Linked DNA regions of Homo sapiens. The protein of the gene in region 1 purifies or fractionates together with the protein of each later gene. This does not show direct contact. Each region holds a gene or a part of one and is shown on either strand. Other genes may lie near its edges.

Region 1 (16,344 bases):
CACTCTTACTTTTTAATTGGCAAAATTCTTTCTCTTCTGAGAGGGCTGGTATTCCTTTAACTGTGGTGTAAGTTGAATATAGTCATTTGCTTCATTTATGAGTGCTGTCAGAGGGCCAAGGCTCTGTACAAGATCTTTGTGGCTGGATTCTTGCCCTGAGTTTCACAGACCAATATTTAATATATTGGCAGAATATTTTTGGTGTAATTTGGGCTATCATCCAGCAGATGGCGCATAAGAGTAACGGCCAGCGCTGCGGGTTTTTACGTTTCAGCGAGCTCGCAACAACGTCCTGTGGTGTGGCCCAGCGCGGGGAGCTGACCCCACCAGCTCCGCTCTCAAGCCTTCGGAGAGTCCTCTCCAGTCACTATCGTCATTCCCGCATTTCCTTTGCTAGGCTGTCCGGGCTGGGCAGCTCCCTCAGGCGGACACCCATGGCTGGCAGACCTTCCGCGCCTGCCCCTAATCTGGGCATATCACTCCCTCGGTTTTCTGAGACTCGGGACTCCTTGCCCGCTGGAGCGCAGGCCATGAATCTGGGTCCCGCACTGCGGCGCTGCACGCCGCAGCCCAGGGCTTTGGCCCCAGCCAGCACATCCGCCATCCTGCACCCCAGGTTCCGGCACGGGCTGCGACGGGGCCTCGGAACTGCTCCCAAGCGGCTGGGAAAGAACTCAGTCAGGCATGTCGGCCTGCAAAGCACCCAGGATGGGCAGTGGAGTCTGCACCGTTGACAGGCTCCTAGAGCGGCCAGGCAGAGGACTTGAGAGGGGCTGGAGGGCAGGAGGTCCTGCGGAACAGAAGTGCCCCACTCCGAAGGGAAAGTCGACCCTGCTGTTCTCTTTGCGCGGCAGTCAGTGGGGTTAGAGTTATTCGGAAGAGGACGGAGAGCCTTGGGGGATGGGTGCGCATGGCCATGTTCCACTGGAACTGCCCCCAACGCAAAACAAACAAACAAACAACAACAACAACAAAAACCGGGCTCTATGCAGGCTGGAGTTCTGCCTCTGCCTGCTTGTAGGGCATATCCCCATGCCAGTTCGAATGTTTATGGGGAGTGTAGGATCTCTTGTGGCTGGAATCCTAGAGGTCCACAGCAAGAGTGGGCTGCCTTGCCAAGGGTTGTTCAGGGCCAGGAACTGGCACTGGTGTTCCAGAACCTGAAAGGGTTCCCGGTCTCCCTTTCTGTCAGCGGGAGTGGTGCTTCCTGTCTGCGTCTATTTGGCCATCTTGTCTCTGTTGACCAAATAGCTTTTTTGAGAAGAAAAATGAAATTGATAAATCTCTAGCTAAGCCGATTAGTTTTAAAAAAAAAAGATACAATTAACACTGTCAGGAAGGAAGTGGCAATGCTAAAGATTCTACAGATATTCAAATAATTTTTAAAAATGGTATGCCAATAAATTAAACAACTTAGATGAAGCTCATAAATTCCTTGAAAGTAACCACCAAAGCTCATTGAAGAAGGAATCCTTTGAACAGCTCAACATCTAAAAAAAACTGAATCTGGCCGGGTGCGGTGGCTCACGCCTGTAATCCCAGCACTTTGGGAGGCTGAGGCGGGCGGATCACAAGGTCAGGAGTTCGAGACCAGCCTGGCCAGCATGGTGAAACCCCGCCCCTACTAAAATACAAAAATTAGAGGGACATGGTGGCTCGCGCCTGTAATCCCAGCTACTTGGGGGCTGAGGCAGGAAAATCGCTTGAACCCGGGAGGCGGAGGTCGCAGTGAGCCGAGATGGTGCCACTGCACTGCAGCCTGGGCGACAAAGCAAGTCTCCGTCTCAAAAAAAAGAAAAAAAAGAAACTGAATCTGTAGTTGAAAACCTTACTACAAAGAAAACCCTATGCCCAGATGACTTCAAGGGTAAATTGTATCAAACATTTAATGAAGAAATAGTACTAATTCTAAACCAAATCTTCCAGAAAAATTGACATTGAGAAATATTTATCTGATATTCAAATAAGGCAAAGTCATAAAGAGAAAAGAAAACTATGTTTAAAAATACTGGCCATGGCCAAGCACGGTGGCTCACACCTGTAATCCCAGCACTTTGGGGGCCTAGGCGGGCAGATCACCTGAGGTCAGGAGTTCGAGACCACCCTGGCCAACATGGTGGAACCCTATCTCTACTAAAAATGCAAAAATTTGCTGAGTATGGTGGGGGGTGCCTGTAATCCCAGCTACTCAGGAGGCCAAGGCAGGAGAATCGCTTGAACCCGGGAGACAGAGGTTGCAGTGAGCCAAGATCGCGCCACTGCACTCCAGCCTGGGCGACAGAGCAAAACTCCACCTCAAAAAAAAAAAAAAAAGTACTGGCCAGGCATGGTGGGTCACACCTGTAATCCCAACACTTTGAGAGGCCGAGGCAGGAGGATCACTTGAACCTGGGACTTCAAGGCCAGCCAGGGCAACATAAGAAGAGCCTGTCTCTTTCTCTCAAATTAAAATAATTAGCTGGGGATGATGGTGCATGCCTGTGGTCACCGTTGTCCCAGCTACTTTGGAGGCTGAGGCAGGAGGATCACTTCAGCCTGGGAGGTCAAAGCTTCAGTGACCTGTGGTCGTGCCACTGCAGTCCAGCCTGGGCAACAGAGTAAGACTCTACCTCTAAAAAACCAGAACAAAATGAACAGAAACAAAAAACCCATAAATATAGTTGCAAACATTCTAAGCCAAATTTTAACAGAAATAACCCATAATATAATACATATAACAGATCTAATCCATTAATATAATGCAATCCTAAATTGTTTTAACCTTATATAATTAATGAGTGTAATTCATGTTAAAAGACTAGAAATTTTTAACCTAAAAAAAAACAAAGAAAATACTAGATATTTTTAAAATAAAAATGTATATATAATCATCTCAATAGATGTAGAAAAATATTAGACAAAATTAACACCTATTCCTGATCAGTCCTCTAAGAATGCAAGGAACAAAAGGGAACTTCCTAAAACTGATTAAGGACGTCTATGAAACATCTACAGTTTACACCATACTTAGTGGTGCAACACTGAATGATCTCTTCTCAAGATCAATTTCAAAATAAGGATATTGTTCTCACTACTTTTATTTCTCATTGAACGGGAGGTTCAGGCAAGGAAAAGAATAAAAGCATTGGAAAGGAAAAGATAGAAGTGCTTCCGCTGGCACACAGAATGATTATTTGTGTAGAAAATCTGATGACATCTACAAAAAAAGTTACTAGAAGAAACAAATAAGTTTATCAAGGTTTCAGAATATAAGGTGAATATTTAAAAGTCTATTATATTTCTCCATACTAGCAATAAACAGTTGGAAATTAAAATTATCAATGATAATTCCCATGTACAGTAGCGTCGAAACTATGAAGTATATATGGTAAGCTAACAAAATATGTAAAAATATCTGTAAGAGAAAACTGCAAAACATTGCTCAGAGAAATTTTAAAATACCTAAATAAATGCAGAGACATACTTTATTCAAGAGTCAGAAAAATCAATATTTTTAAGGTTTCAATTCTGCCCAAATCGATTTGTAGATTCAATGTAATCACAATCAGAATTCCAAAAGAGTTTTTGTAGAAATTAGTGAGCCAATTCAAAAATCAATATGGAAAATATAGTGACATAGCTCAGCCAATGTAACTTTGCAAAAGAAAAATAAATTTGAAGGACTGTCACTGCATGATTTTAAGATTTATTATAAAACTACAGTATTCAAAATAATGTGGTGGTGGTGTATAAATACGCAAATACAAAAATACAACAATCAGTGGAATAAAATAGAGAGTTTAGAAATAATCCCATGAATATACAGACAACTGATTGGTGATAAAGGTGCAAAAGCAATTTAGTAAAGAAAAATAGTCTTTTCGACAAATTTACATTTGTCGAATTAATCCCAAATAAATCATAGACCTCAGTATAAAACCTGAAGCTATAAAATGTCTAGAAAAAAATAAAGGAGAAAATTTTTGTGACCTTGAGTTAGTCAATGAGTTCTTACAAACCACAGCAGAATAATAAAAATGGACTTCATTAAAATAAAAAACTTCTGCTTTATGAGTATATTGTTCAAAGAATGAAAAGACAGGCTGGGCGGTGGCTCACACCTGTAATCCTAGTACTTCGGGAGGCCAAGGCAGGCAGATCACTTGAGGTCAGGAGTTCAAAACCAGCCTGGCCAACATGGTGAAACCCCATCTCTACTAAAAATACAAAAACTTAGCCAGGCATGGTGGTGGGCACCTGTAATCCCAGCTACTTGGGAGGCTGAGGCAGGAGAATCACTTGAACCTGGGAGGCGGAAGTTGCAGTAAGCTGGGATTGCACTACTCCAGCCTGGGCAACAGAGTGAGACTCCCTCTCAAAAAAAAAAAAAAAAAGACAAGACAAGAAAAACATTTCAAGATGCATATCTGATAAAAGGTTTTTATCCCAAATATATAAAGTTCTCAAACTCAACAGTAAGAAAAATAAACCAAGTAAAAATTCTCAAAAGATTTATACAGTTACTTTATCAAAGTTACCTAATACAGATGGTAAATAAGCTTATAAAAATTTGCCTGGGGCGGTGGCTCACGCCTGTAATCCCAGCACTTTCAGAAGCTGAGGTGGGTGGATCACCTGAGGTCAGGAGTCTGAGAACAGTCTGGCCGACATGGTGAAACCCCGTCTCTGCTAAAAATACAAAAATTAGCTGGAAGTGGTAGCGGGCGCCGGTAATCCCAGCTACTTGGGAGGCTGAGGCAGGAGAATTGCTTGAACCCAGGAGGCGGAGGTTGCAGTGAGCTGAGATTGTGCCACTGAACTCCAGCCTGAGCAACAAGAGCGAAACTCTGTCTCAAAAACAAACCAACAAACAGAAATTTGTAGGATACACAGATTAAAACTATGAGGATATACCATTCGATATCTACTAGAATCATTAAAACTATAAGACGAACCATATGAAATTCTGGCATGGATGAGATGGAACTGGAGCACTCATACACTGCTGGTAGGAATGAAAAATGGTACAACTTTGGAAAAGAGTTTGTCAGTTTCCTAAATAGTTAATCATACACCTACTGTGTGATCCAGACGTTATACTCCTAAGTATTTAACCAAGAGAAAAGAAATCCTATGTTCATACAGACTTGTACACAAATGTTCACAGCAGCTTTATTTGTAATATCCCAAAACTAAAACAACCCAAATGTCATCAACAAGTAAATGGGTAAATGAATTGTGGTATATCCATACAAGGGAATATTCAACATTTAAAAGAATGAATTCATACGAGCATCAAGATGGAGACATATGAATCTCAAAATAATTATGCAAAGTGAAAGAAGCCAGACAAAAAAAAAAGACATACTATATGATTCCATTCACATAAAACTACAAAATGCAAAATGAAAGCCGATTGGTGGTTTTCTGGGGAGGAGTCATCAGGAGGAGCATTGTGACACTTTGAGGGATGATGGATATGTTCACTCTCTTAATTGTAGTATGCATGTTCTCCACAAGGTGTGAAAACTTATCAAATAGTACACTTTAAATATGTTCAGTTTATTTTATGTTAATTATATCTCAATAAAGCTTTTAACAAAAGCAAACATCTCTTGCCTACATAAGGATGACACAGCTCTTAAAAAAAAAAAAAGATTCCTGCTAGATTGTGTGCAGCAAAATAAAAAGGCTTCCTTTAAAGTAGAATAGCCTGTGAAGAGTGGGTGGAAAGGAAATAGAAGCCTAAAAATAGAAGATATATTTCTAATTCCATCTGTTTCTATTCAGCGATATTTGCATACCTGGCTTAGTTTGTTCTAGATTGAGTGTCTTCATTTTTTTTGTCTTGTATGTTTCGGAATTATAGCATAGCAAAACAGAGTTGAGAAGAGTTCATCTACAAAAGGTATGTTCTTTAGGGAAAGAAATTCTATTCTTACCTCTGGGCCACACATCCCATGATTCTAACAAGAACTGTTGTGAAGGGTTAAATCTATTAATCTGTCCTCTGGTAGAAAAAAAAATGAAGAAATAATAACTGATTCAGGAAGTGGTAACAGGTTGTGGATTAGCTTACAGAAAAGACCACTCACTTACTAATTACTTTCTTGGGCTCCCCACTTGTCCCAAAATGTGTGTGTGTGTGTGTGTGTGTGTCTGTCTGTCTGTCTGTCCGTAAGTGGTAGAGTCTGGAGATGGACCACAGTTTAAAAACCAAGGATTGATACCTTTTTTAAAGTTAAGAACATGAGTTTCTTGATTTCGGAATGGCCTCTGTCCTTCTTTGTTTCTTCACGTGCACTTTTTCCCAGACATATTTCCCCTTTTTGCTCTCTGCCTGCACTTGAGCAAGTTCTCCATGTTCTGTCTTTCATGCAATTTTAGGAGTGTGAGGGGAAGGTGATAATGAGGTAAAGAAGACTGAGTTCAGAGGGTTTTCAAGCTTGAAGAGGAGTCAAATTTTAAAATAAAAAGGGGAAAATGGACTTCAGGCTGGCAGGGAAGCTTGGGACAAGCTAGGTGAAATAATACAGGTAGCTAGAATCAAAAATGTTGACATAAAGGTGCCAGGCTCCTGGAACCCCAGTTTCTGCAAAGGAGTTCTGCAGCCAGCTAAATGACAGTTTTCTGGGCTCTCATGTTTGGCACCCAAGTGACAAAGAATAGCTTAAATTCCAGAATAAAACTCAAAGACTTTTTTCTTTTCTTCCAGAGCCTTCAAATTCACTGTGCTCTTAGGTTTGCCTTCTTCTGACATATACTGAAGGCAGCTAAAATGCAGTTTTCCGCATAAACAGCTCCTCGTTGTATATATGCACAGGTACCTGAAGGGTATGTCTGGGAGACAGCGCCTCGGACTCTAAATCTGCAGGTAGGAAAAAACAAAACAAACCAACAAAAAAACTTAGGTTTACTGCCACCTTGTTTCAGAAACTTAGCTTTTGAAACTTTTTGTCTTAAAGCCTCCAATCAGTAATAAATGTGGGAAGGAAAACTCAAGAAAATGTCTGAATGGTTAATGAGTAAATCTTTTTGTGAAAGAGGTAAGGAAGGAGACTTTGAGAAATTCCCCCAAGCTTCTCTCTGGCAAGAAGAGGACATTGGTGGGATGCAGGCAGTGACCTCACTAGCAGGTTCAGCAAAGAATAGGAAACTGACGAGAGAGGCATCAAAAAGAATGGGAAACTTACAAGTGGGGCATCAAAGGAGAACCGTCCTCCCAGAGCCATGGGTAGCTGGGGTTCCTCCGAGACAGCCCCATCCAGAATGGAAAACTGGAATAGGAAATTGCTTGCTGGATGAAGTCCTGTGGGGAGTAATGTTTCTGAGTTTGTGGAATCCACATGGTGGTTTTAGAATCTGAAAGTCAGTTAGTGTTGGATCCACAAAACTAAAGAACCAAAAGGTATCTTTGACATCCCCTTGACTGTTTTACGGAAACACTTACTGAAGGCTAGAGATACTACAGAGCCTGTCCGTCCAAGGTCATACACAAAATTGGTGATCAGACTAAGCTAAAAAAACAGACATTTTGGCTCTCAAACAAGAATTCCTCCAGTGACAGTTTAAACCAGATTAATTTCCCTATCAACCAATACTCCACCCCAACAAATATCCATGAACACTCACCAGATCAGCTGTGCTATTAATTTTCAGCAACTTGGCATCCAAAGACAAGCACTTCTCTTGGCTCTTTTCCCAGTTAAATGAGCCCGAGGAAAATAGGTAACAGTTTTCTCCATGCCAGATCCAGTCTTGCGGACAAGGAGCTGGGAAGGATAGTATATCTCATCAGTCAGTTATGTTTGTGTAAAAGCAGTACTGCAGTTCTTAAATCAATGATCCCCTTAGTTCTCTCACGTGCATACTATTTATTTTTGTTTTTGTTTTTGTTTTTGTATTTTTAGTAGAGATGGGGTTTCACCATGTAGGCCAAGCCTCCCAAAGTAGTGGGACTATAGTCGTGAGACACCGCGCCCTGCCCACACTACTTCTTAAGTAAAATTTTACCCAGGTTCTGCAAATACCTAAATAGCCTCAGAGTCCTTATTTCTTCATTTTTTGGGAAAAAAAAGAAAGAAAGAAAGCATACTGATTTTAGCAACCTAAATGTACTTCTCATTTAGCATTTTCACTTCCCCTGATGAAAAGCAAGTTAAGCTAGCATGTAATTTTAGAAACTGATCTATTTTTTAAAGTTGTGTTGGAAATAAAGAAAGTGAGGGTTGGGAGAACAGATATTTAATAGCCATTCTGCTATTTTTAAAAAGTAATGCTATGCATTTTAAAATTTCATATCTTTGAATAATGAATCTAGGCTTAAATACTATGTGTCTTGCTTTCAGACATGTGTTGTCTAATACAGTAGCCATATGTGATTCTTGAGTACTAGAAATATAGCTAGTTTGCATTTCTTAAAACAAATTATTTTAATTGAAACAGGGTCTCGCTATGTTGTCCAGGCTGGTCTTGAACTCCTGGCCTCAAGCAATCCTCCTGCCTCAGCCTCCCAAAGTGCTGGAGTTACAGGCATGACCCACCACACCCGGCTAGTTTGCATTAAGATGTACTATAAGTGTAAAACACACAAAAGATTTTGAAAACTTAATTTGAAAAAGAAAAAGAATGTAAAATAGTCCATTAAAAATTTTTATACTGATTAGTATTGAAATAATATTTCAAATATCTTGGGTTAAATAAAATGTGTTTCTAAAATTAATTTTATCTGCTTCTTTTTCATTTTTATGTGGTTACTAGAAATTTTAATGATATATATATATATATATATAAAAAACACATACTATATTTCTTTTGTACAGAGTTGTTCTAGGGAAAATAGTATATTAATATAAAGCGAGGATCTCAATTTAAACGAGATTTTAGAAAATAAGGAGATTTTCAGTAGCAAAATTCACAGGGAGTCCACCAAACCAAAAACAGGACTTAGACAATAGGCAAAATATACCAATGTCTACATGTTTATGGATGCTTTCAGGAACCCTCAAATCATCACTATCATCACCATCATCATCATCATCTCTCCCATCTCCTTAAGGGGAAACAAAGTACTCTGGTCTACACTACAACCAAAAGGTGAAAAATTAAAATCTTTGAGAAAGGCAGCATTTTAATTTCATTCTCACTGTGGCATAAAACCACTAAATAAATGTATAAGAGTAGGCTTTATCAGAGAGGAGAAAATAGGAGGGACTGAAAAACAGAAAAAAGTGAATGAGAAAGAGCATACAAAACACTAAGTTGATTTTTCACCAAACTGATGCTTATGAAAAGAAAAAGAGACCAAGTTGAAAGCAGTCAATGCAAGCTTCTTACTTCTTAGTTTGCCTAACCCCATCATATTATGTAAATATAAATATATGTACGTTTTTGGCTGGGGGTGGTGGCTCATGCCTATAATCCCACCACTTTGGGAGGCTGAGGTGGGTGGATCGCTTGAGGCCAGGAGTTCCAGACCAGCCTGTGCAACATGGCGAAACCCCATTTCTACAAAAAACACAAAAATTCACTGGGTGTGGTGGTGTGCGCCTGTAGTCTCAGCTACTTAGGAGACTGAGGTGGAAGGATCACTTGAACCTAGGAGGTGGAGGTTGCAGTGAGCTGAGATCATGCCACTGCACTCTAACCTGGATGACAGAGGAAGACTCTGTCTCAAAAAATATATTTAGATGTATATAAGTTTTTTGTGGACTAAAAAGACAGTCTGGGCAAGTTTTCCCAGTTATGACAAAGTAAGAAGGACACATTACAAAATGTAGTATTTAAACTTACTGTATTTCTTTGTGTGTGTGTGTGTGTGTGTACACAAAAATAAACAGAGTAAGTGATATTTGTGTTTGTTAAATTATATAACAATACAAATATCACTTACTATGTTTATTTTTTATATAATTTAACAAACACAAATATCACTCACTATGTGCCAGAAACTGTTGGAAGTACTGTACAGGTATTAACTCATTTAATCCTCACAGTATCTCTGTGAGATAGGTTCCAGTCATTTTCTTCATTTGACAAATAGAGAAGAATCTGGACCTAGATAATGTAACTCTAGAGTCTGGGTGTTTCACCACTATAACATACTACCTTTCAAACTTCTAAGTTAAAACCATTTGAGGAAGTGTTTCTCGGTGCTGCTCTCGAGACATTTTGATACAGAATCTTGAGGTAAATCTGTAATCTGCCACTTTTAACAATCTATTTACATACAGTAAAGTTTGAGAATCACCACAAATTCCATTGCTAAATGTGAAGTCTATTCCTGCAAAGGCCCTGCATCTCACTAGCTCGTTGGCCTAAAGCAAACATATAATAACCTCTCAGCATCTCTCCCTCCTCATATATACATTGAAGACCACAGACTTTTTAGTAAAAAAGATAAAACTTGCCTCAAACTGGAAAAACTTGGCTTTTTTTTTTTTTCTGTATGTGGTATTTTAGTATTACTTTTTAAAGACTTCTCAAAGCTCTTTGGTGGGCCGGGCCTGGTGGCTCACACCTGTAATCCTAGCACTTTAGGAGGCCAAGGTGGGTGGATCACGAGATCAGGGGTTCGAGACCAGCCTGACCAACATGGTGAAACCCCGTCTCTACTAAAAATACAAAAATTAGCTGGGCGTGGTGGCAGGCGCCTGTAATCCCAGCTACTCAGGAGGCTGAGGCAGGAGAATTGCTTGACTCCGGGAGGCGGAGGTTGCAGTGAGCCTAGATCGCACCACTGCACTCTAGCCTGGGTGACAGAGCGAGACTCCGTCTCAAAAAAAAAAAAATGCTCTTTGATGAAAGGCAAAACTTTATTTGCTATCTCTACTAATTAGCCTTTATCTGACACTGTCAAGGAATGGAACATGTTACTTGGTATATCTGCCAGCATCAGACATATCACTTATTGTTTTTTATTAGTTGTTCATCCAGGGCATCTCTGGGAGATAGTTCTGAATGGTCCTGATGTAGATTTAATCCCATACAACTGATAAAGACAAAATTCTCTTCTGGCCTTGCCTGTGATATAAACCATTGGTTAGTACGTGGTTATGTCCGCTTTTATAAACATTCCTATCCTTAATAGATAAACTTTCTCCCTTTAAGCCTTCTTGAAGGTGGTATATTCATTTCCTTGCAAGCTCCAACTTTAAAGAGATTAAAAATGTTTGACACTTGCTAAAAATTATTTTGTTCAAAAATTTCTGCTAATTTTGAAAATGTAAATGACCTCTAAATAGTGAAGGGATTTACAAACTGCAAAACCTTACACAAAATTACTTTTTATTATCATTTCACTTTATCCGGGTCTCAGTGTTCCACCTATCAAGGAAAAGCTTAGGTATCTGTGAACTATTATTATATGCTCTTTATTCAAATAAATTATGTGGTTGAGATTAAGTAAATTGTGCAAGCAAGAAGCTAGAGAGATCTCTGTTTATTAGAGGAAGTTTTTCTCTAATCCTGACAATAGGGCACTAATTTACGCACCTCCAAGGAAACAAAGTACCTCTGAATGACTCTCTCTCACACCTTTTAACTCTCCCTATGCCTAAAACCATATACCTGATGTAATGACATACTGCAGAAAGACCAAATAATACAGTAGCTTCTGTAACAATATCAGAGTTCACATCATAGTCTTCTTATAGATGCTACTATTTCTGCCTGCCTCTGGATTCTGAGTCCCTTTAGACGGCTAAAATTAACTCATTTCTTCTTATATAAATAGACTTCTTGGACTCCTCATATTTTTGTCTAATCTGAAGTATCTGCGTAAGGCTTGCAAGCCAGTCTACCTCCATTGGCTCTATTTAAATTGATGGGCCCGGCACAGTGGCTCACACCTGTAATCCCAGCACTTTGGGAGGCCGAGGCGGGCGGATCACCCGAGGTCAGGAGTTCAAAACCAGCCTGGCCAACTTGGTGAAACACCATCTCTACTAAAAATACAAAAATTAGCCAGGTGTGGTGGCGGGTGCCTCTAATCCCAACTATTCGGGAGGCTGAGGCAGGAGAATCCCTCGAACCCGGGAGGCGGAAGTTGCAGTGAGCCGAGAATGTGCCACTGCCCTCCAGCCTGGGGGACAGAGCGAGACTCCCTCTCAAAAAAAAAAAAAGAAAATTGGCCGGGCGTGGTGGTGGGTGCCTGTAATCCCAGCTACTTGGGAGTCTGAGACATGAGAATTGCTTGAACCCTGGAGGCGGAGGTGGCAGTGAGCCGAGATCAGGCCACTGCATTCCAGCCTGGGCGACAGAGCGAGACTCCATCTCCAAAAATTGAAATCAAATAAAATAAGTTGATGTAGTACACTTTAAGAAATAATGCCACAGAGTGAGCTAATGTAGAGTTAGGGGTAGACAGTTGCAAGGACAAAAAGATCCCTTAGAAAAAGAAATACAGTGATTAAAATGCATTGGAATGGAAAGAGATAAGGATCTATGGAATGGGGTGGGGGTGGCAGAATTCTTCAAGAAAAATGTCAAAACTGCTACTAGGGAGGCTGAGGCAAGAGAATCACTTGAACCCAGGAGGTGGAGGTTGCAGTGAGCTGAGATCACACCACTGCATTCCAGCCTGGGTGTGACACAGCGAGACTGTCTCAAAAAATAAAAAAAAAGAAAGAAAAATCTCAAAACTAAAATTTTAAAAAGAAGAGGCTCTTATAAAGAAGGAAAACTTAAATCCACCAAAAGGTATGCTTAATTAAATCAGATTTTTCAAGGATTTGACACAGCATAGGGTGGTTCTGATTAAAAATTTAGAACTTCTTGCCGGGTGCGGTGGCTCACACCTGTAATCCCAGCACTTTGGGAGGCTGAGGCAGGCGGATGACTTGAGGTGAGGAGTTTGAGACCAGCCTGTTCAATATGGCAAAACCCTGTCTCTACTAAAAGTACAAAAATTAGTTGGGCATGGTGGCTCATGTTTGTAATCCCAAGCACTTTGGGAGGCTGAGGCAGGAGAACTGCTTGAACCCAAGAAGCAGAAGCTTATTGAACTGAGATCACACCACTGCTTTCCAGCCTGGGTGACAGAGCAAGACTCCGTCTAAAATTAAAAAATAATAATAAAATAAATAAAAAATTGACCGAGAGCGGTGGCTCATGCCTGTAATCCTAGCACTTTGGGAGGCCAAGATGGGTGGATCACCTGAGGTCAGGAGTTCGCGACCAGCCTAGCCAACATGGTGAAACCCTGTCTCTACTGAAAATACAAAAATTAGCTGGGCGTGGTGATGGGAGCCTGTAGTCCCAACGACTTGGGAGGCTGAGGCAAGAGAATCACTTGAACCCAGGGGGTGGAGGTTGCAGTGAGCAGAGATCACACCACTTCACTCCAGCCTGGGCAAAAGAGCGAAACTCCATCTAAAAAAAAAAAAGAAAAAGAAAGAAAAAGAAAAAGAAATTGAGAACTTCTTGTATAGAACATTATGAATGAATAATGATATGCATAACAATAGACCAATTTTGAGCCCAGAATTGTTTCCAAAAAATAGTTATGATTGGACAGAAAGCTTCCACTATGTCTCCTTACCCACCCTTCTCCCAATACCTGAACAATTTGCTACTCTCTTCAGTGTTTCTTGGAGATTCAGATTCTGGTGGTGAAGTTCCATTTGCTCTTTGGATTTCTCATTCAGCTTCCGAGCAAGGGTTTCTATCATTTCCTTGAGTTCGTTTTCTGACTCCTGTGAAGCTTCTTCTGCTTGTTGCCGGGCTGAGATCTGTCCCTCCAGTTTCTTTTTCTGGTGAGTTAGGTTTGCTTGCTCTTGTGTTAGGAGGTCAGACACCTGGGATACTGAATCACAGTTGCATTAAGACTCTAGTTCTAATCCAAATAAAAATCCCTCCAGGGACTTTTTGAGGAAATCAAAACAGAATTAAATCTATTTTGACAATAGATAAGCTGCTGAAAAATGACCCAGATTTACTCAGAAGTTACAGATTTGGAGGTTCTTGAATATTCCTGCAGTATTTTGTTTAATGTCAGGAACATTGCAAACACTTGTAATTTTTTTAAAAATTACCAAGATTTTGGCCAGGCACGGTGGCTCAGGTCTGTAATCCCAGCACTTTGGGAGGCCGAGGCAGGCAGATCACGAGGTCAAGAGATAGAGACCATCCTGGCCAACATGGTGAAACCCCATCTCTACTAAAAATACCAAAGAAATTAGCTGAGGGTGGTGGCACGCGCCTGTAGTCCCAACTACTCAGGAGGCTGAGGCAGGGGAATCACAGTGCCACTGCACTCCAGCCTGGCGACAGAGGGGGACTGTCTCAAAAAAAATAAAAAACAACAACAACAACAAAAAAAACCCAAGATTTTTTTTTATTGAGTTACAAATGAAAAGTAATCACAAGATAACCAGTACAGCATTAGAATAAATAAAATAAGGAAAACCTGAAACAGACACCCACCAGACTCAGTGACTATTAGTAGGAAATGTCATTAGCGATTTACTCTATTTATGTCTCAATTCCTCTGCTGTGTCTCCTCCCATTCTGTCTACTCTTCCAGACTTCCTAATTTTAAGAACTGTGACATACACCCCTTTTTTGAGACAGCCACGCACACTGTGTCACAAGAGTCTCCAAGAATTTTTTCTTTTCTTTTTTTTTTCCCCTTGGCCACGGTACATTTTAGGAAGGGTGAAGATAAAGTGAAGGTTGTGAAATCAAGCAGGCGATAACATGTTAAGGGTCAAATGTCTCAGTTCCTGAATTTTGATGGTGCAATACAAAGCAGACCGCTTGGTTTGAAGGCAGCTTTGATCCTGTTATAAGATGATCAAAGGCTCAAAAGATTTTTCTGGTCACCACCACTAAGTCAAGGGCACTTCTCCTTGTCACTAGGAAAGGCCCTAAGTATTTACAAATTTAAAATAAAATAGTTTGTGAGCTTGAACAACAGTTAGGAAGCAAATAGCACTTCAATGGCCATAATAACCTGGATCCTGGGTAGCCTAAACAACTCAGTTCTACAACCTAAATTCACAGGCAGTTCAGGTGAACGTTGGGCACCATTTTCTTTCCTTCTTGGCCACTCTGGGCCATCTTTTCACTTCTTTTTTTCCCTCAATATCTTCTCTTTTCTAAATGCTCTTATTATAAATGTGAAATATATTTTATTTTAAATGTTTTATTTATTAAGATTGTGTTTCTGGTTCTTAACATTAAAATGGTATTTAATTATCTCTATCAAAACTCAGCAAGCTAAATAAAATTTCTTTTACTTTTGGGCCTCTCAGATGATCTTGGATATTAGTAACTTTAAGTTATTATCTTCTCCATCATTCTAGAATTTAAATAGGCTCTATCCATGAGGTTGGTTTTTTGTTTGTTTGTTTTGTTTGAAATGGAGTCTCGCTCTGTTGCCCAGGCTGGAGTGCAATGGTGCAGTCTCAGCTCACTGCAAATTCCACCTCCCCGGTTCAAGCTATTCTCCTACCTCAGCCTCCTGAGTAGCTGGGATTACAAGCATGTGCCACCACACCCGGCTACTTTTTGTATTTTTAGTAGAGATGGGGTTTCACCATGTTGGCCAGGCTGGTCTTGAACTCCTGACCTCAGGTGGTCCACCCACCTTGGCCTCCCAAAGTGCTGGGATTACAGGTGTGAGCCACCGCACCCGGCCTATCCATGAAGTTATGAAAACAAAAGAAACAAAACAAAACAAAACAAACAAACAAAAAAATGCCTACCAATTGTAATTTTTATTTCATGGCTCTATCCATTGGAAGATGAACAATATACCCCTTTATTTTCATGGTCACTCTTAAAAACATTTTGCCTAAAATGAATCTATATCAAGGCTGTTTGTAGTTGTTATGAAAGAAACTTATAAACCATATTTATTAACCTCATTTCCAACACCCCTGCCCCAATAAACATCAGTTCCGTATTTTAGCACTTACATTGCATGCCCAGCACCATAATGGTCACTACTAATCCCAGGCAAAGGACCCCTAGAGTCGCAGCAGCCAGGCACCACCATGGAGAGTAAAGAAACTGAAGACCTAGAGTGACAGAGGATAGAATCAGAAAGACAAAAAAGAGTGAACAAGTAAGCAAACCATTCCTTGGAGCCTGTCTGTACTTGGTGATTTACTCTGTTTATGTTTTAGTAAATAGACATAAATAGTTTGCATTCCATACCACTAGTCCTCCAAATGGCTCTGCAAATAATTCATCATACACATTTAGGAATGGAAAACAGGGAGAGTTAAGGAATTTAAGTAATTTACCCATGGTCACACAGCCAGTAAATTCAGAGCCAGGATTCGATACCAGATATTTGAATCTAAATATATGATTCTAAAGCTTATACTTTATCTACTTTCCCGACAATTACTCCTCAAG
Region 2 (16,344 bases), on another chromosome or scaffold:
GAACAACATTACATTTGCAAAAATTAACAAGTAAATATTGTGGTTGATAGTTCTCTAAGAATCCTAAAATTCCTGCTTCACAAGAGGCTTTCAAATAGAATTTAACCATTTTTCTTTAGGTAGGACTGAAAGTATAACAGATAAAAACAAAACAATAACAACACATACACAGAGATAACTAAAAAAAATTTTAAATCACCACCACACCTCACTAGAAGAAACTTTCACTTATCTAAATATAATGTTACAAATTAACTCACATACAATACAGCTTCACAGTCCTAATTATCAAAGTGACCTCGAATGACATCATTGGGCTTCAAAAATATCATACATGTTTCCTTTCCCTCTTTTCATTTTTGCTTTTTTCTCTTTTTTATATAAGAAAATAAAAATAAAACCTTCTTCCTCCATGTTTTCAAGTTTTCCATAAAGCTTACATATTTGAATAGAGATTTACATAAATTGCTCAGAAAAAACACTGAAAGAATGAGATTTCTAAAACCTCTGGCTATCCATTCTGGTATTTAACATTACCCCCTGGCAGTTAATATTTAAATTCTGTTGACTATAATTTATGACTGTTTCCCAGATTGTGGGTGAAAATGAATAGATATGATTATCTTCCTCAAACACACTGAAAAATGTCTCCAGTTTTCCTCTCTCCAATGCAGGTATTTAGGTTTGCAGATTTAGAGACACCAGCCAATCCTAGCTTCTCAGTCTGTCTGCAGGCTGATAGGAAGGATGACTGATCTTCTAATACTTGATGAAAAGATGAGTAAATTTGACTGAATCTCTTCTGTCTCTGATTTTAATACAATAAATTATCTATTAATTATTATATTAATTAATTAATATGATATTAATATAATACAATTAATACTCTCTAGATGTATTAGTGAGTTACTGGCATGTGAAAAACCAATAAGAACCCTCTTTTTTTCCCTGCTCTTAATCAAACCAGTCCATTTGGACTTCTGTGCCTGCATCTGAGGCAGATTCACACAACGTCACCCAAAGTGCTGTCGAGGGGCTGCCTTCACTAACTCCTCAGGCAGCATGTGTTAGGTTGGTGCAAACTATAATTGCGGTTTTTGCCATTACTTTTAATAGAAGGCAAAATAGAAGGAAGGCTGCTTGTTAAAAATACAGACTCCTTGGAATTCTGCCCAAAATCTACTTTAAAGTCTCTGAGAACAAAATCCCTCTGCCTTCACATCTGCATTTTAACTGACTTCCTAGGTTTTTATACTGCTGCACAAGTAGATACACTTACAAACAACTCATTGGCACAGAAACATCCCTTCTGTATAATTGTAGACTGTTTAAATCTACATTTATCTTTATTTTGCACATGAAAAGTTCTAAATACCTTTGTTATTCTTTAACTTTTATTATTATTTTTTAAAAATGTTTTCCTCTTCAAACAGTCTATAAGTCAGTTTAAGAATGTGATTCCTGGAGTCACTTGCCCAAAGATATTAGGGTGATAGGGCCTAGAAGAGGAGCAGAACTGAAGAATCTGGAAACCCTCCCAGCAGAGATAGCTGTAGCTGCCTGAGCCCTGTGGGATTCATTTTTTCATCTGCTTAAGACCTCATCTGTATGACACACAGTGGCTTGGGAGAAACTGCATGTTATGTTGCAACTGAGTTGGGTCACACATTTAGCCTGTGTGGTGCTGCAAATAGTTCATAAATTAGGTGACATTTTTGTACTCCGTATATACTTTGGGTCTATGGGTTTGCCTAGGCTCTATGCCAGAACCCTGTGTTCTGACCCCTTAGGAAGTATATGCACAAGGAAGAAATGAGAAGGAGTTACAGATTGCCTTTTCCCTGTATTTCTTAGCAGGGACCTCTTCCCATTACCCAATCTTTACCAGGCAGAAGGGGCCAGACCCCTAACTGGTGCTGTTTATTGCCATTTTCCAGCAAGGTCTGGCCGTGAAAGTGAACCACGTGAATGTCTTGGGAGCCGCCTATGTTCAGCAGGTGTAACCTCACCCACTCTTGCTCATACATTTTCAGGCCAGGCAAGCTGTAGATCATCCCATTAATGGCTGAAAGGACAAAGAGTTGAAATCAATTAAAAATCTGTTGACACAGAGAGGGCGAGTGGTAAGGAAATATGGGGCAACCCACTCAACACCCATGTTCCTCATGATTCTGCATTCCCAGGCCTACCTAGCCATGGAAAGGGCCCTCTTGTATGTCACATTAGTGAGAGGCTAAAGCAGAACCACTAGTCCTTCTCATATCATTCACACCAGCCTACAGCAGAAGGCAGGGGGAACTCCCTTTCCAAGCAGTTTATCACTCTTTTCCTCAGCTTTTACAGTTCCGTGCTTTACCCGTGTATACTTTCCATTAACAGTCTTAATTTTCCTTAACTACAAAAGATAAATACAAATATGGGCAGACAAAGTAAACTCCAGGGATTAGAGTCAGCAAGGAGATATGCAGCATGTCACCTTAAGGCCTTCTAAATTCAGAGAAAGTTTCAGGCAAATTAGGAAGTCTAGGAGTTTATAAAATTAGGAGTTTATCGTTGGTGTATCCAGCAACCATAGCAAGTCATGTTTATTCTCTTATTGGTATGACAACTCCTCTGCCCACTTCTCAGATTAGATAACTAGGGTTCTCAGGCTTTATCTACTCTCCCCACAGTAAAATACGCGGATTTTTTAAAAAGTTCCTGAGAAACTTGATCACCTTAAAAATGTAACACAAAACTGTAAAGATAAAGTTTAGTGTTACCAAACGTTTAACTGAAACCAAAGTGAAGGAAGTGCTTTGTTTCCTCCTTCTTAAGTTAGAGGAACTGCTGTGAAATTTCAGAAACCAGGCAGGTGAATTTTTGGAGAGGGACGGGTTGAGATCATTTGGGCATCCTTCAAATTATATCAGGCGTGAGAACACCTATCTACATATTCATAACACAAGCTCGTACCTTTCTCTTCTCAGTTTCTGTTTCAGTTACTAGCTTACAGGGCAAATTTTCCTTGTGAATTTCCAAATAGGCACACTTTTCCCAGTGTGACCACCCAAATGCTCTCTTGCCACTATTCTCCTATTACCTGGGTACCTAGTTTCTTATCTCATTTTGTTCTCATATGCTTTGGGTGCCACCTGGTAGCTGCTGAGAGCTAAAACTGTTAGCGTCATTCTTATTTTAGAAAAGACACACAGGTGATCATTTCTTTTATATAAACACTTGTGCCTTTAGAGATCCAGAAACAAGCTTATTAACTTTAAATTGCAGAACAATGTTAATTCCTTTTCAATGTATGTTACCAGCTGAAGCACACTGGCTTTTTGTTGTTGTGGTTTTCTGTTGGTTTGTTTTGCAGCAGCTTCTCTGTGCTATCTTTCAGACTTTCTCTTTTTGCCTCACCCACAGTGTCACCTGCCAGATTACATCAGCCCTCTGGAATGTTAAGGAACCGGTTTTAGTTGTAGCTCTGGGTGTCTCAGAAGCATCTCATGTCTAATCTTGTGAATATCTAAGGGCAGAAATCACTGTGACCCAGTGTGATTTAATTAGGAGATTAGATCAAAGTCTGAGGAAAATACCGTGAAACTCATGGGATTTTTTCATTTCTGAGGATGTGAGTCTCCAAGAACTTCGGGACTTCTTTTCATAGTACCAGCTCTTCTTTTCATCAAAGGTCATAAATAGTAAGACAAATTCTCTCATGTCCATAGGCATGTTGCTGTCCTTATGTAGTATTCCTTTTTGGCAGATTAGGAGGGGACCTATCAAGCCTGAGTGAATATCTTTTTCCTGGAAAAACAGAGTAAATTGTATTGCCTCTTTCTCAGGAATTTCCTTGCTCTTCTGATAATCACTCATCATATAGAAAAGGAAACTTTCTGATAGGCTCTGAATTTGAAGATGAAGATTATAAATGAATGGCATAATAAGCCTGGATATTTATCACCTAATTCTGTTGTATTCATAATCCTCCTTCCTCTGATTGATCTTTATCCCAGTAACAATGATGATAATAATAAATTGATAATATAAGGGATACTATTTATTGAGAATCTATTACTATATTAAATGATTTGCCTGCAATCTCCCATTTAATCCTGACAACTATCTTATATGGTAAATATAAATTCATTCATTGAACAAATATTTACCAAGTGCTTACCATGCACTATGTACTGTTATCTCATTTTTAACTTCTGATACCAGGCTAAGAGAGGTCAAGGAATTTCCTAGGATTATGCATTGACAGGGTAAAAATTTAAATCTGAGTCTGTGCTCTTTCCACTATGCCTGAAATGGAGGAGTTGTTTCTCTTTTTAATTGACAGATAAAATTGTATGCATATACTGTGTATGACATATTGTTTTGAAGTATATATACATTGCAGAATGTCAGATAAAGGAGTCTTGACTTTGCAGTTCTTTTCATAAAGAAAGAGCAGAACATAGCTAATACTTGTTCAAGAAAATTTCAAATAAATGCCATCTTCTGTAAATGTAGGCATTCTAATTCATGGCCAATCATTCAAGTAATCTTTCCTCCTCTCCACTGAATAAATGTTTCTCTCTCTGTCATCTGAAGAGCTGCATGGAGAGTCCCTGGTTATGATAAATGCAGACTGTTAACCACACCCTTATGCATTCCTCATGAAAAGCAAGACAGACATTTGACAAGAAATAACCCCGACTCTTCCATTTGGTGGACTTCAGATTACGAGGTTAGGGGAATGAGAAAAACTTTCAATGAAAGTACCTACTGGGTTCACAGCTGAGTAGTAGGCCCAAGCCCGACAGGCAGAGCCAGGACTTTCTGGCCCTGATCGCTCAGTGGCATGCCATACGTAGGTATAACTGCTATTTGGCTGAACAGCATTATCTTCCTTAAACCATTCAGGAGAGTCATCTTCATAAGTCTTTCCCTCTGATGATTTTTCATAGGAAAGTCCATGGGCATGTAGAGAATACGGTCTGGATGCTAAATTTTTAAAACGAACCTAGGAAAAGGAATGATCCACAAATGTACTTAAGCTTAACAAAAATCTAAACCACAAAAATGTCAGCATTATAAGTCAAAATGGCTGGTTATAAAATCGGAGCTAAGATATAAGGTACAAAATAACTTATGTATATTATTTCATTTAATTTTCATAACCATCCTGTGAGATATGGCCCAAGTAGTTTTCTCCAGAAATACCAAAAGATATTTGTTCTTAGGCTCAAGGCTAAAGTACTGACATTATCTACTAATGAAATGAGAGTGATAGGTAGTGGAGATGTGAAGATGAAAGAAGCTTGATTCTTGTTCATAAGAAGCTTTTAAGCTCCTGCTGAAACAGACATGCACATGGGCATCCACACTACAAATCTGGAGACAACAGGTGCTATATACAAAGTCTAAGTGGGTTCAGATGACAATGCCCTGGAGGAACAATTTGGTTGAATATTTAGGAGTGGTTGGAAGAATTAAGGTAAGTTTCTTAGAGGAAATGGAATTGGCCATCATAGAATGAACAGGAGCTAGAAAGACATTTCAGACTCTCAGAAGGGCAGAAGGATGCCTGTGAGCAGGGGAGTAAAGGAAGAGTTTGGGGAATAGCAAGGATCTCGGTGGAACTGGGCTGTGAAATGCACAGGGACAGGTGGAACCTGGTGAGAAATGAGGCTAGAAAAGGAGCAGGTTGGGGCCAGATGGTAAAGGACTTAAATGCCATATGAGAAGTCTTCACACCCCAGCAGTCAGACCCATGAAGCTCCTCCCAGCCCTTCTATAACTTCTAGTGATTAAAGACTCCCTAATTGTCTGTTCCTTATTTTATTCTACAAAGCCAGCATCACCCTAATAACAAAACCTGGCAAAGACACAATGAATAATGAAAACTACCGGCCAATATCTCTGATGTACATAGACACAAAAATCTTCAACAAAATATTGGCAAACCAAATCCAGCAGCAAATTAAAAATTAATTCATCACAATCACATAGGCTTCATTCCTAGGATGCAAAGTGGCTCCACATATGCAAATCAATAAATGTGATTCACCACATAAACCGCATTAAAAACAAAAACAGTATCATCATCTCAATAAATGTGGAAAAAGCTTTTGATAAAACCTAACATCCCTTCATGATAAAAACCCTCAACAAACTAGGCATTGAAGGAACATACTTCAAACTAATAGGAGCCATCTATGACAAACCTACAGCCAACATCATACTGAATGAGCAAAAGCTGAAAGCCTTCCCCGTGAGAACTGGAACAAGACATGGATGCCCAATCTCATCACTCTTATTCAACATAGTACTGGAAATTCTAGTCACAGCAATCAAGCAAGAGAAAGAAATAAAAGGCAACCAAAGAAGAAAAGAAGTTAAAGTATCTCTCTTCATTGGCAATATGATTCTGTACCTAGAAAACCCTAAAGACTCCATGAAAAGGCTCCAGGAACTGATAAATGACTTCAGTAAAGTTTCAGGATGCAAGATTAATGTACAAAATCAATTATACAAAATAAAATGTACAAATGTACAAAATAGCATTTCTATACATCAGTAATGTTCAAACTGAGAGCGAAATCAAGAACGAAATCCCATTAAACATAGCCACACACACATACAAAATACCTAGGAAAACATCTAACCAAAGAGGTGAAAGATCTCTATAAGAAGAATTACAAAACACTGATGAAAGAAATCATAGATGACACAAACAAATGGAAAAACATTCTATGCTTATGTATTGGAAGAATCAGTATTGTTAAAATAGCCATTGTGCCCAAAGCAATCTACAGATTCAACACTATTTTTTAACAACTACTGGAATCATTTTCCTCAGGATTAGACAAAGCTATTCTAAAATTCATATGGAATCAAAAAAGAGCCTGAATAGCCAAAGCAATCCTAAGCAAAAAGAACAAATCTGGAGGTATCACAGTACCTGACTTGAAACTATACTATAAAGTTACAATAACCAAAATAGCATGGTACTGATACAAAAACAGACACATAGGCCAATGAAACAGAATAAAGAACCCAGAAATAAAGCCACACACTTACAACCACCTGAACTTTGACAAAGTCAACAACAACAGCAACAACAACAACAAAAAACAAGGGGAAAAGGACTCATATTTAATAAATGGTGCTGGAATAGCCGGCTACCCATATGTGGAAGAATGAAACTGAACCCCAATGAATCCAATGAAACTGGATTCATCATATACAAAAATTAACTCAAAATGGATTAAAGATTTAAATGTCAGACCTCAAACTATAAGAATCCTAGAAGAAAAACCTAGGAAACACCATTCTGGATATCAGCCTTGGGAAAGAATTTATGACTAATTCCTCAAAAGCATTTCAACAAAAGCAAAAATTGACAAATTAAACTAAAGAGCTTCTGCTCAGCAAAAGAAGCTATCTACAGAGTGAACAGACACAGAATAGAAAAAATATTCACAAAGTATGTATCTGACAAAGGTCTAATATCCAGAAACTATAAGATAGTTAAACAATTGAACAAGCGAAATACAAATAACCCCATTAAAAAGTGGGCAAAAGACATGAACAGATACTTATCAAAAGAAGACATACAAATAGCCAACAAATGTGAAAAAAATGCTCAACATCACTAATCATCAGAGAAATGCAAATCAATACCACAGTGAAATACCATCTCACACCAGTCAGAATGGCTATTAGTACAAAGTCAAAAAATAGATGCTGGTGAGGCTGTGAAGAAAAGGGAATGCTTATACACTGCTGCTTAGAATGTAAATTAGCCACTGTGGAAAGAAGTTTGGGGGTTTCTCAAAGAATTTGAAACAGAACTACTATTTTAAGGGAGGAGACCACCCCTCATATTGTCTTATGCCCAATTTCTGCCTCCAAAGAAAGAAGAAGTAAAAACTAAAAGGCAGAAATGAAATCCACAAGCAGACAGCCCGGCGCCACACCCTGGACCTGGTAGTTAAAGATCGACCCGTGACCTAATCGGTTATGTTATCTATAGATTACAGACATTGTATAGAAAAGCACTGTGAAAATCCCTGTCCTGTTCTGTTCTGTTCTAATTACTGGTGCATGCAGCCCCCAGTCACGTACCCCCTCCTTGCTCAATCAATCACGACCCACTCACGTGGACCCTCTTAGAGTTGTGAGCCCTTAAAAGGGACAGGAATTGCTCACTCGGGGAGCTCGGTTGTTGGAGACATGAGTCTTGCCAAAGCTCCCGGCTGAATAAAGCCCTTCCTTCTTTAACTTGGTGTCTGAGGGGTTTTTGTCTGTGGCTTGTCCTGCTACAATTTGACCTAGCAATTCTATTACTGGGTATATAGCCAAAAAAGAAAATAAATTGTTCAGCCGGGCGCAATGGCTCATGCCTGTAATCCCAGCACTTTGGGAAGCTGAGGCAGGCAGATTGCCCGAGGTCAGGAGTTTGAGACCAGCCTGGCCAACATGGTAAAACCCTGTCTCTACTAAAAATACAAAAATTAGCTGGGCATGGTGGTGGGTGCCTGTAATCCCAGCTACTCGGGAGGCTGAGGCAGGAGAATTGCTTGAACCTGGGAGGCAGAGGTTGCAGTGAGTTGAGATCATACCTCTGTACTCCAGCCTGGGCGACAGAGTGAGACTCCATCTCAAAAAAAAAAAAAAGAAAGAAAGACAGAAAATACATTGTTCTACTGAAAAGACACATGTACTAGGATGTTCATCACAGCATTATTCACAGTAGCAAAGACATGGAATCAATCTAGGTGCCCATCAGTGGTGGACTACATAAAGAAAATATGGTACATATGCACCATGGAATACTACGCAGCCATAACAAAGACTGAAATCACGTCCTTTGCAACAACATGGATGCCAGCTGGAGGCTATTATGCTAAGTGAATTAATGCAGAAACAGAAAGCCAAATACCACATGTTCTCACTTATAAGTGGGAGCTAAACATTGGGTACTCATGAACATAAAGATGGCAATAAACACTGGGGACTTCTAGAAGGGGGAAGGAAGGAGATGAGCAAGGGATGAAAAACTATTGGGTACTATGCACGCTACTTGGATGATGGGATCAATCATACCCTAAACAACAGCATCACATAATATACCCAGATAACAAAACTGCACATATGCCCCCTGAATCTAAAATAAAAGTTAAAATTATTTTAAAAATACACAAATGAAGTCATTTTTATCTAGTGAAATCCAGGGCTAAAACAAAGATTCAGTATTTGATTTTTTTCCTTTTGCCTAAGGCTCCAGTATGTCTCAATGCAACATTGTTACTTATCCTGTCTTTATTCACAATTGTGAGGTTTTGTTTATTGTGGCTTTCGTGCATTAATTTTGATTTTTAAATTTTTTAAAAAACTTCAGTTGCTTTAGGAATGCAAGTGGTTTTTGGTTACATGGATGAATTGTATAGTGGTGAAGTCTAGGATTTTAGTGTACCTGTCACCTGAGTAGTGTACCCTGTACCCAATAGGTAGCTTTTCATCCATCCCCCGTTCCCTTTTGAGTCTCCAATGTCCATTATACCAATCTGTCTGCCTTCGCATACCCGCAGTTTATCTCCCATTTGTAAGTGAGAACATACAGTGTCTGGTTTTTGATTCCTGAGTTACTTAGAATAAGTTTTTTAAATATTGTGTTAAATTATCGTTCATCTTGAAAAAGGATCCCCTAATCATAAAAGAGAATATTGCCTCCCATAGCTTCATGGAAAATTTAGAATAATTAAGATTCTTATATCCCTATGTACTTGTTTACGTTTTTAAAAAGAGCAAATGGTCACTGAAAATGTAGTGAATGCTTACACAGGTATAGTAGATTATATTTTAAAATCTAGAATAGCTTACTTTAGAATCAGGGTTCTTTCTGGGTTTTTGAATGTGAGCGGTTAGCAAAAATGGCGGAAGTAAACTTTGTTATAAAAGCAAGTTATAATCGTGGGTCTGGACACAAGATTTTGAAAGAAATTACCAGAACTAGGAAGACACTGAAGAAACTTGCTCACTTTTGGAGGGCATGGAGACATCTTTACTTTCCTTACTCATTTTATTTAACTTCATTTTATTTAATTTTTAGGAAAACACCTGAAGATATTTCTAAATTACTATTACTACTAGCACTGCTACTGCCACCACCACCACCACTGCTATGAAACCCAATTCAATTGCTCTTGAATATATTAATTTTCTGTGTTAACTTTAGATAGGTTAGCTTTAGATAGAAATTACAGAAAGATTTTCCACAGATTATATAGTTTTCAGCATTTAAAAAATGAGATCTTTTTTTTTTTTAGTTCGAAGATTGCCAAATTGCTTGGCAAGGAGTCTTTGAAAAGAAATGTAATTATTCATTAATCCTGGAAAACAAACAAATCACCTATAGCTCTCTTGCCACCTGCACCTTTACAACCCTCTGGTGCTTGTGGAAATTCCTCCGAAGATCTTAGCAGTGCTCAAAAGACTTACTTGGATAACATCATCCACTTCAGCTCTGATAATAGGACCAAGAATTCCGAGATGCTCTTCATACTCCCCTCGAGGATCACGTTTGGTAAAAGTGCTGTCGAGGTACTTTCGAAAAACTACTTTCTTATATGTGGTATCTTCTGGAATATCATCAGAGTCTTCAATATCTGTTTCCCTGAAATAATAATACTATTTGTGTAAAAGAAGAAATTAAAGACTGTTCCCAGAATTTAGGAAATTGTCTCTTTCTAAATATAGCATCTAGCATAGAGAAGGTCTTTAATAAATACTTGGTGGATAAATGAGTAAATATATAAGTGGATAAAAACAAAAGCCAGTAAATATCTTTCAATTCCTAACTCAAATATTATTTTATAGGTAAGTCTTCCTATGACCTTTTAGACTAGGTCAAGTCTCTATATCAATTTCTCATATTTCTATAGTATTATTATAGTATATATAGTAAATTCCTGTAGTATTCTTATAATATCTCTAGAATATATATTGTAGATTATATATAATTTATTTGTGAGATTATCTATTAATATCTGTCTCTCACTGGGTATAAGTGCCATGAGGTCAGCCATTGTGCCTAGTTTGCTCATAGTACTCTCTCCAGTGGTAAGCACATTATCTGACACACAGCAGGAACTTAATAAATTTTTGTCAAACATATAAATGAATGTATAAATATAATCGTATGTTAACACACCAAATTTTAAGATCAAAGGCAGACAAAGCCATGTAATGGGACAGTGCCAGAGCTTGGGGCTATCAGGTGACAATGGTCAGATTAATTAGAAGGTCACACTTATGAAAGTCACTGGATGGGTGAATGTTTTGTACCCTAAAAGTAGCCACTCTTCTCACATTTGTTTTTTGCTAATGTCCATTATTCTTAAGCTTCTTGACATTGGTGTGGACAAAGATTTTTTGGATTTGACCTCGAAAGTACAGGCAACAAAAGCAGAAATAGACAAATGGGATTGCCATCAAACTCAAAAGTTTATGCACAGCAAAGGAAATAACAGAGTGAAGAGACAACCTTTGGAATGGGAGAATATTCTTGAAAACCAGATATCTGATAAGAATATTAATATTAAAAATATAAGGAACTCAATTCAGCAAAAAACCCAAATAGCCTGATTAAAAAATGAGCAAAAGACTTGAATAGACATTTCGTAAAAGAAGACATACAAATGACCAACAAATATATGAAAAGATGCTCAACATTACTAATAATCAGAGAAATGCAATTTAAAATCACAATGAGGGCTCACCTCACACCGTTAGGATGGCTATTATAAAAATGACAAGAGATAAATGTTGGCATGGATGTGAAGAAAAGGGAACTCTTGTATACTCTTGGTGAGAGTGTAAATTAGTACAGCCATTATGGAAAACAGTATGGGAGGTTCCTTTAAAAATTAAAAATAGAATTACCACATGATCCATCAATCCCACTTTTGGGTATATACCCAAAGAAAATGAAATCAGTATGTTGAAGAGATATCTGCTGTCCCACGTTCACTGCAGCATTAGCCACATTAGCCAAGATAGGGAAGCAACCCAAATGTCTATAAACAAATGAATGGATTTCTTAAATGTGATCTACATAAACAATGAAATACTATTTAGCATTTAAAAAAAAGAAAACGAAGAAATGCCATTTGTGACAACATGACTGAACCAGGAGGTCGTTATGTTACATAAAATAAGCCAGGCACAGAAAGACAAGTACTGCAGGATCTCACTTATAATGTGGAAACTAAAAACATTGAGCTCATAGAAGCAGAAGGTAGAACAGTGGTTAACAAAGGGATACAGAGGTGGAGCATTGAGAAAATGGTCAAAAGATAAAATTCAGTTAGAAGAAATAAATTTAGAAGATCTGTTGTATAAGATGGTGACTGTAGTTAATAACAACACACTGAATTTTTAACATTGCTGAGTACATTTTAAGTGTTCTAACCACAAAAAAGTATGTGAGGTAATGCATAGGTTAATTAGCTTGATTTAGCCAATTCACAATTTATAAATATATTAAAACATCATGTTTACACCATAAATGTGTATAAAACAACAACAACAAAAAAACTGGGGTACACCCATATAATGGAATACATGCAATAACCAGATGAATCTCCAGAGAATTATACTGAGTGAAAAAATACCAGTCCCCAAAGGTTACATGTTGCCTGATTCCATTTATGTAATATTCTTGAAATGACAAAATTATAGAAATGGAGATCAGACTACTGGTTGCCAGGGAATAAGGAAGGGCTATGGTGGGAGGAAGGCAGATGTGACTATAAAGGGGTAATGAGAGGGATTTTTATGGTGATGGTGAACATTCTGTGTCTTGACAGTATCAACATCAGTGTGCTGGTTGTGATATAGTATTATAGATTTGCAAAATGTTACCCCTGGGAGAAACTGGGTAAAGAATACTCAGGATACCCAAAGGATCTCTCCGTATTATTTCTCTTGACTGTATGTGAATCTATTTTATTTTTGTTCCAAAATAAAAAGTTTAATTACAAATTATAAATAAATAAATAAAGCACATTATTTCCATCTAGTTCATTGGCTCAGTCTAGGACTGAAGCATGTCGAATTCTCCCACTGACTCTCACATTTCCCAAGCCTGTGGAAACAAGCCAAACACTCACCCATCAAACCCATAATATTTGCTATATACTGTGAGTCATCAACAGAGAATCTCCTTCTGCCTTTCTTCTGGTCTACCTCCCCTACTAATCCCATCTTTCCAGACTCTGAGCATAACATGCAAACTCACAGAACACAAGGGAGTGGGTAAAGCAACTCCGAATGCCATAAAAGTGGGTTGTGAGCCTTGAATGGAATACAAGATTTTGAAGGTGGTTCCATCCCTATTCACTCTGGACAGGCCCTGCATCTCACTCCCTCGGGGCCTTGCTTAGAAATACTCAGGTAGCTAGTTGTTCTCATGTGGTATTGAGTGCAACATTTAAATAGGAAGTCATAGGAAAAGGTGTTTTAAACAGAGTTCTAATGTGGAGATGTCAGGCATCAGATTAATGAACTCATATGCATAAGTCACACCATACATTGTGTTTGCCTACTGTAATTACACTTTGGTTTTTTAAGTGATTAGTGTAACAGCTTTAGTAAAAGCTGTGGGCATATCTAGACAGCTGATGCACAGTCATCATGCTATATCCCTGAGAATTTGTAGTTGACTAAGCCTTGCTCCTTTCCTCCTCTCTCTTCTCTTTCTGTATCTTCATCCCAGAACAAAGAGCCCAGTTCAACATGGCTTTCTACCCCTAAGCAAAACTGAATTGTAAATATTCTTTTAAAAAAGGGATTTGGATCTCTTAGAAATTCTGATCTAAACAAGTAAATGCAAAAAGGAGATTTCTACATCATATTTGAGTTTGGATTTGAGGCTAACTTCAATTAAATCATATTGATTAGCATATAGCTATGGATAGGTTGGGCTCTGCCTGGAGCAATAAGAGTCAGTAGAAACATGGGTAGTAAGAGGAGAGGACACAGAAAAATGCTTAATTACAGAATATTATAGAGTTCTCACAGTGATTGTTCTTATATTGTCCAGGGGTCATCTAAGGTAAAGAAGCAATCTTGGAATTGACAAAGGAAAAAGAACAGGCCAACTTGCAATAGGGGAACCACACTGTTCTTAGTATAATTTGCCCACAATTATCCCCCTGAATTGTAGTAGCTACTTTTTTCAGCAGTAATGGAAAAATGAGAATAAAAAAGGAGAAAACTGGCCAAACCTTTGTACAAATTCTGAATAATCCCAGGATATTTCTTCAGCAGCAATGTAATAATTTCTTCTGTTTCCATTGTTGCTGCGGAGGTACCATGCTGCAATGTTGTCAGGATCTCTGGAGGAGTTGATGTTTGTCCTAACATCAGTTTTGTAGGGGTCATCATAGGGCACATAATCAATTTCAGCATAGTCATCTTCACTGCTCTGGACCTCTTCCTTTGGAATGATCTCAATGTAATCTGTACCATCTTTACTGAGGCCCACTATAACCAGTGGATTAAATTCCTTTGATAGAAAAGTATCATTGAGAGTAGGAGATGAAGGAGATGGCATCTGACCAAGGTCTGGATAAGGAAAAGACTCATTAAATTCTTGAAGAAGCAATGACTGACTAGATTCAGAAGGGTAGAATATCTGATCAAGGTCTGGAGGAGGTGATATCTGGCTGAGATCCGGGAGAAGGGTGGTGTCACTGATGTCTGGAGAGAGAGTCACCTGGCTGAGGTCTGGGGAAAGGGACATCTGACCAAAGTTTGGGGAAAGATCTGTCTCACCAAGGTCTGGAGAAAGTGTCATCTGGTCGAGGTCTGGGGTAAGGGGAATTTGACTGAGATCTGCAAAGAGGGGCATCTCACTGAGGTCTGGGGAAAGGTTTGTCTGACTGAGTTCTGGAGAGAGGTTTGTCTGGCTGAGGTCTAGAGAAAGGGTTGTATGGCTGGGGTCTGGAGAAAGGGGCATCTGACCGAGGGCTGGGGAAAGGTTTGTTTGACTGAGTTCTGGAGAGAGGTTTGTCTGGCTGAAGTCTAGAGAAAGGGTTGTATGGCTGAGGTCTGGAGAAATGGGCATCTGACCGAGGGCTGGGGAAAGGTTTGTCTGACTGAGTTCTGGAGAGAGAGTCATATGGCTGAGTTCTGGAGAGAGGTTTGTCTGGCTGAAGTCTAGAGAAAGGGTTGTATGGCTGAGGTCTGGAGAAAGGGGCATCTGACCGAGGGCTGGAGAAAGGTTTGTCTGACTGAGTTCTGGAGAGAGGTTTGTCTGGCTGAGGTCTAAAGAAAGGGTTGTATGGCTGAGGTCTGGAGAAAGGGTTGTATGGCTGAGGTCTGGAGAAATGGGCATCTGACCGAGGGCTGGGGAAAGGTTTCTCTGAATGAGTTCTGGAGAGAGAGTCGTGTGGCTGAGGTCTGGAGAGAGGTTTGTCTGGCTGAGTTCTGGAGAGAGGGTCACCTGGCTGAGGTCTGGAGAGATGACTGTCTGCCAGACTTCATGTTCTGAGGAAGGGGACATTTGACTTATATCTGTGGGGAAGGACTTGTGACTTCGGTCATACTCAAGCATTTCACTGAGCTCTGGAGAAGAGGATCTGTGACTGGGGTCTGAAGTAGAGTGCATTTGATCAGGGTCTTGAATGGGGAATGTTTGATAGTGTTCCTCTGGGGGCACTGTCTGATAAAGACCTGGAGGACAGCTTGCCTGACCAGTGTCATTTGAGGAATTCTGATTATGGTCAGGAAGTGAGGCTATCCAGCCAAAATCCATAGAGGGCAATGTCTGATTGAGGTCTGTGGGAAGAGATGTTTCATTGGATTTATGAAGCACCAACGAATGCTTAAGTCTTCTTTCTGAAAATGTGTTGTAGGCTTCACTTCTTAGAGGGTGAAAGGTCCTCGGAGATAAAGGAGCATGGTGTGTGTGCTTCTCTTTTTTCTTTTTTCGTGTCTTAATGAGAAACTGGCTTTTCTTCAGTCTACTCTTTCCTCCATCCTGTCTTACTTGTAGAGATTTATGTCTAACTCTAGGAAACTTTGGGTGGCCACTCTGCTTTCCAGGCTTGTTGGCAAGAGGGGTGCTTTCTCCCCAAGCACGTGAGGCATTCTGGGGGCTGATCAGCCAATTGTTAACAGCTGTGTCTTCATCAGTATCTTGGATTATTTCATAGCTACCTTTCTCAGAAGCCAAATGCCATCTCCCAACCAAAATCTTAGATGAGTTACTTTGTTTTAAGAGTAACAGATCACTAGGAGGGTCCTTCCAGGGCCTCATTCTGGAAGGAGAACCAGTGTCTTGGCTAGGAAGGTCCTCCCAGG

The links.
Region 2: the proteins of OLR1 (region 1) and F5 purify together in Homo sapiens (affinity purification with mass spectrometry; 2 studies listed by BioGRID and IntAct, with this or other methods). This does not show direct contact.

The regions. Positions count from the first base shown.
Region 1 is NC_000012.12:10,153,175-10,169,518, forward strand, and holds the end of OLR1 (oxidized low-density lipoprotein receptor 1), read right to left. Parts: intron 16,002-16,344; coding exon 15,900-16,001; intron 13,784-15,899; coding exon 13,538-13,783; intron 7,752-13,537; coding exon 7,612-7,751; intron 7,342-7,611; coding exon of another isoform or gene 7,289-7,341; coding exon 7,173-7,288; intron 6,848-7,172; coding exon 6,706-6,847; 3' UTR 5,127-6,705; downstream 1-5,126. UniProt on the Homo sapiens protein: Receptor that mediates the recognition, internalization and degradation of oxidatively modified low density lipoprotein (oxLDL) by vascular endothelial cells.
Region 2 is NC_000001.11:169,526,030-169,542,373, forward strand, and holds part of F5 (coagulation factor V preproprotein), read right to left. Parts: coding exon 14,265-16,344; intron 10,652-14,264; coding exon 10,477-10,651; intron 4,994-10,476; coding exon 4,757-4,993; intron 3,790-4,756; coding exon 3,579-3,789; intron 2,066-3,578; coding exon 1,886-2,065; intron 1-1,885. UniProt on the Homo sapiens protein: Central regulator of hemostasis. It serves as a critical cofactor for the prothrombinase activity of factor Xa that results in the activation of prothrombin to thrombin.